2 separate regions of the Homo sapiens genome follow, and region 1 is linked to region 2. Evidence: fine-mapped expression QTL. A gene starts in region 2. The other region holds a variant in brackets. All regions are shown on one strand. Distances are between the middles of the regions.

Region 1 (2,500 bases), 55 kb before region 2:
CTGGTCCCACCCCTTTGCCCAGGCTCCATCCCAGATCCATGTTGACTCCACCCACCTGTCCATCTTGGAGCGCCGTTCCACCGAGGTGATCTTGAGTTCCCCGTCGATCTTGGGCCGGCCATAGTGAGCCAGAGACTGGTCCTATGCAGTAGGCAGGGGGTCTAGCAAGGGTCTCCCAAGAAAGGAGCCAGACACACACTCTCCCCACGTGGCCACACCCCTGGCCCACCCGGCTCCACCGCCTCACCAGGTTCTCAATGGACAGCTGGAAATTGGTGATCTGTCGCAGTGTCTCGTTGTCTCGCTTGACCTCGTTCACGCACTGAGCCAGGTCCTGGGGAGGGGGCAGGGGTGAACCTGGCCCCCCAACAGCCGACCCAGGCTCCTACCTAATCCCGGCTAGAGGATCAGCCCCTACCAGGAGGGTGTCTGCAGCAGGTGAGTCACCAGCACCCTACACCCACTCACCCTCATGGCATCCAGGGCCAGCCGCAGGTTCTCCTTCTCCATCGCCTCCTGCGTGTGTTTCACCAGCTCCTGAGAGAACCAAGACGTCAGACGTCACCTGGGCCCCTCCCCTTCTCCCTGCGGGGAGGGCCTTCCAAACAATGCTAGCTCACCAGCTCCTCCATCGTACTGCTGACCCTGGAGGCTGAGACATGACCCCAGTGACCCATCCCCGAGCGTCCTAGAGACCCAACCCCCAGAAGCCAGCCCCGTCCCCACTTTTATAGACACAGGAGAGTAGGTACGTGGAGCCCACGCCTAGAGATGTGCCTGGCACCTGGAGAAGGAGGTGATATTTGAGAACTCGCTGCATAGGCACCATCAGCAGGTCCCGCAGGGTGAACCTCCCGTTGTTGGCTCTCTGAGAACATTCCTGGGGAATCAGAGAACAATGGGGAAACTGAGGCAGGTCCCAGAAACAGCCAGTTGCAGGGTGGGTGCAGATAGATTTGAATAAATACGTGAGCAGCTCTCCACCCCAGAGCTGTGGGAATTTTTCTAGAGGCCAAAGCATCATATCTGCCCCCAAGGAAACAGGAAAAGGACTCCATGAGGTGGGGGCAGCTTGAGAACCACTGGAAGGAACTTTGGGAGGCCGAGGCGGGAGGATCACTTGAGGTCAGGAGTTCAAGACCAGCCTGGCCAACACGGGGAAACCCCGTCTCTGCTATGAAAAAAAAAAAAA[T/AAT]AGCTGGCGTGGTGGCAGACTCCTGCAATCCCAGCTACTCAGGAGACTGAGGCAGGAGAATTGCTTGAACCCGGGAGGCAGAGATGGCATTGAGCTGAGATCACACCACTTCACTCCAACCTGGGTGACAGAGGGAGACTCCATCTCAAAAAACAAAGACAAACAAACAAACAAAAAAGCAATGGGAAGAGGCTGGGCACGATTGCTCAGGCCTGTAATCCTAGCTCTTTGAGAGGCTGAGTGGGTGAGTCGCTTGAGCCCAGGAGTTTGAGACCACCCTGGATAACATGGTGAAACCCCATCTCTGCAAAAAACACAAAAATTAGCCAGGAATGGTGGCATGCATCTGTAGTCCCAGCTACTCAGGAGGCCAAGGTAGGAGTTGGGAGGATTGCTTGAGTCCAGGAGGTCGAGGCTGTGGTGAGCTATGATCATGCCACTACACTCCAGCTTGGGGGACAGAATGAGACCCTGTCTCAAAAAAACAAAACAAAACAAAACAAACAAACAAACAAACCCACTGGAATGTGGCAAATGCTGCCTGGGATAGAGGTCCAGTATTCTGCCTGCTGAGGGGGGCTGGAGATGGGGAGGGGGACAGATCTGGAGAGCCCCCGTCCTCACCACCCCTGCCCTGTCTGTGTTTCCACCAGACAGATCCAGGTTGAAGTTCAGTTCAAGATCAAGTTCAGCCTGGGATCAGGGGTTGGTTGGAATTGGGGTTCAGTGAGAAGTGGGAGCTCAGCCCGACTTGGGGTACAATCAGTGCTAGGGCTCAGCCCAGGGCTGGGGTTGAGTGTGAGATCAGAGCTCAGTTCAGGGTCAGGACTTCACCCTGATATCAGGGGTCAGCCCAGACCCAGGGCCAGCCCATTTCTGTTCTTCTCCATTTCCTCTGCTTGGCTGGCTAGTACCTCCCTCCCTAGTCCTTTGGTGGATCTCTGGCTGGGCTGCAGCAGAAAGTGGACCATCTGCAACTCAGTGTCCTCCCTGCTGCCCCCAGGGCCTGGGGAGGAGCGGGAGAGGCCCCCGAGAAGTGGCCCGGCGCCCACCTCCAGCTTCATCTGCACGTCCTCCCGGGCTGCGGCCACACGGTCCAGGTGTTTGCTGGCTGACTCCACCTGGCTGCAGTAGCGGCCATAGACGAGGAACCTACAGGGAGAAGACAGGCCACCAGGTAAAGGTGACTGGCATCAAGGTCGGGCAGAGGCTGGCGTCAGCCCTGGCCTTGCTCTTCCCCGCTGGAGAAGAAACCTGAGTCCCAGTTTCTCCATCTGTGAAATGGGCATAACAATAGCATCTCCCATG
Region 2 (2,968 bases):
AGAGTGAGACTCCGTCTCAAAAAAATAAATAAATAAATAAAATAAACAGAAGGAGTAAAGGCGCATGGATCTCTTCCACCAATGGCCCTGCCCCTGAAAACCACCCGCCAGGAACCCCCATGGGCCCATCTCCATTAACTTATCCTCCCAGCTCTTCATCTGCAGGGCCAGCCTGAGGACCAGATGGGAGCTGTCCCCTCAGACCTCAGGGCAGGACTGTGTCCCCCAGGCCCCAGGATAGGGCTGTATCTCCTTTCATCCCAGAGGAGATGGGACTCCACCAGCCCCGCCCCGTCCCCCGTTCCCACCCAGCAGCCCTGGGGAACCAGACATGATGCTACAGCAACATAATGCAGCCACATCACACGCCCACCCAACCACATTCAAATAGGGATTTGAATATATTTCCTGAGCCAGTCTCATACAGCCACAGTCAAATCCACCACCACCCCTCCAGCCTGGGCCCCTGCAGAAATCCCTGCCGAGAAAATGCAGCTCTTCCAAGCACCAAGACCTCAGGACCCACTCTCTGAGCCCAGGACTGGGCCCTGCCTTACTATCTCCTCTGAGATGGATGCAGGGAGGAAGCTCAGATCCCTGGGGCTGCAGCCCCCCACCTGCCCCATGCTGCCCCAGGCCCAGGCAGGAAGCCAAGGGGAAGGAAGATGTAAGGGGAAGGAAGGGGCCCAGGGCCCGGGAGGAGGAGACACATGTGGGGGAAGATGTTGGCGGAGGCTCCTCCCCCACATCCAGACTCTGGGGGTCAAAGGAGTCCAAAGCCTCAGGTAACCCAATGGCCACCCTGGGGGTTCTGGGGAGCTCCCCCGAGACCTCTGGTTGGTCCCATCTGGGGGCATGAACCACAGTAGAGGCGCCTGGGGCTTGAGAGAGTTAACCCCTAGTTTGCCAGTTCTCAGCCCAGATGCGGGCCAACTCAGGGCCCGTGAACCCACACAGGGAGCCTGTTAAGCTTGGGGAGGCCACCCCAGAATCTCAGATTGTGACCACCCCCTGGGCCAGCCCTGGACCTGTAAGCATATTCCCTCTCCTTTGCAGGCCCAGAGGTGGAGCAGCACGTCAGCCCCTCGACTGTCAGCCCCGGGGAGGACCCCCGTCTCCAACCCTCAGCACACCTGCCCGCGGAGGGCTCACCTGGGACATCTGGGGGCGCAGGTTGACCTCACGCAGGTTGATGGCATGGGGTAGCAGGTTGTTAAGCAGCTGACACAGAAGGACACCATCCCGGAGGGCCTGGGCCAGTTCACACACCTGAGCCCCATCCCAGGTCACGCGGTGGCTGGGCGGCAGCACCCGGCACTGGATGAGCCAGTGGGTGCATTGGCGCCACAGCTCCATGGCTACCGCCTGCCCAGGGCCGGCCGTGCACCCTCGCAGCCTCCACCACCCACCCGCCCGCACGCCTGCCCTGCTCGCCTGTGGAGCGACAGCTAGTGCTACCACTTCCTCTTCTTTGCCTGTAACTGTCGCCCTGAGAGGGGGTGGAGGAGGAGGAGCCATGGGGCGGGGGGGAGCTGGGGGAGCACCTGCAGCCCAGCCCCACCCCACGCCTTCCATGCAGAATCTGACATCTCTTTCTTCCGCCCACTCGACACAGGCCTGGGCATGGGGAGTTGGGGGGCTGGGGGAGTCAGGCCAGCTAGACTATGAGATGGGTGAGCTTCCTCCATATGCAGACGGCGGCAGTGACACTCTGAAATATACCCAGAATTCACCCACTTCTCACCCCCTCCTCTGTCTGGTCCAGCCCCGTCATCACTCAGCTGGTCTTCTGACTCCAGCCCCCGTACCCCACAGTCTGTCCTCCCTGCAGCCACCACCAGAGGTTGCCTGTGAGCATCTGAGTCAGGGCACACCCTTCTTCTGCCCACAACTCTCTATGGCTCCCACTTTCCTCCAGGGACAAGCCCAAGTCCTCCCCAAGGCCCACAAAACCCTGCTTGAATTGCCCAGTTCCCTCCCTGCCCTCCCCACTCCCTCTCTCCCCCTCTTCACTGTGCTCCAGCCACACGGGCCTCTTCGCTCTTCCTCCAACATGCCAGGAACATACGGCCCTGCCCCAGGGCCTTTGCACGGGCTGTGTCCTCCACCTTAAGCAACTTCATGGCTAGCTCCCTCACCCCTACATGTCTTTGCTCAAATGCTACCTTCTCATGAGGTCTTCCTAAATCCCCTCATTTCAAATCACAGCCTTTTCCGCATTCCATTAGCTCTACCCACCTCCCTAGGTTAAGCCCTGATCTTTGTCCAACAAATCTGATTTTTTAAGTTATTTTTTTCCTTCCTTCCTTTCTCTCCCTCTTTCCCTCCCTTCCTTTCTTCCTTCCTTCCTTCCTTCCTTCCTTCCTTCCTTTCTTTCTTTCCTTTCTTTCTCTCTTTGTTTCTTTCTTCTTTTTTTTTTTTTGAGACGGAGTCTCACTCTGTCACCCAGGCTGGAGTGCGGTGGCGCAATCTCAGTTCACTGCAAGCTCCGCTTCCCGGGTTCACGCCATTCTCCTGCCTCAGCCTCCTGAGTAGCTGGGACTACAGGCGTCCGCCACCGCGTCTGGCTAATTTTTTGTATTTTTAGTAGAGACAGGGTTTCATCGTGGTCTCGATCTCCCGATCTCATGATCCGCCCGCCTCAGCCTCCCAAAGTGCTGGGATTACAGGCGTGAGCCACCGCGCCAGGCTTCTTTCTTCTTTTTTTTTCTTTTGAGACGGAGTTTCACTCTCGTTGCCCAGGCTAGAGTGCAGTGGTGTGATCAGCTCACCACAACCTCTGCCTCCTGGGTTCAAGCGATTCTCCTGTCTCAGCTTCCCAAGTAGCTGAGATTACGGGCATGCATCACCACGCCCAGCTAATTTTGTATTTTTAGTAGAGACAGGGTTTCTCCATGTTGGTCAGGCTGGTCTCGAACTCCTGACCTCAGGTGATCCACCTGCCTCAGCCTCCCAAAGTGCTGGGATT

Evidence for each region. PIP is the estimated chance that this variant, and not a neighbour inherited with it, causes the effect. A credible set is the group of variants that fine-mapping cannot tell apart.
Region 1: its variant is the best candidate, but not a certain one, in a credible set for the expression of VAV1 in whole blood (INTERVAL, PIP 0.56).

What each region holds. Positions count from the first base shown.
Region 1 is chr19:6,826,456-6,828,955 of GRCh38, reverse strand. VAV1 (vav guanine nucleotide exchange factor 1) reads right to left here. Exons shown (of 27, transcript NM_005428.4): 9 at 2,245-2,344; 10 at 785-880; 11 at 469-537; 12 at 248-334; 13 at 56-141. Among named protein-coding and RNA genes, the nearest start is that of VAV1, 55 kb to the right of the region's middle. The variant T/AAT (reference allele first, on the strand shown) is at 1,193.
Region 2 is chr19:6,771,196-6,774,163 of GRCh38, reverse strand. VAV1 (vav guanine nucleotide exchange factor 1) reads right to left here and starts at 1,456. Exons shown (of 27, transcript NM_005428.4): 1 at 1,153-1,456. The coding sequence starts at 1,356. RefSeq lists enhancers at 568-617, 726-1,226 and a silencer at 1,388-1,637.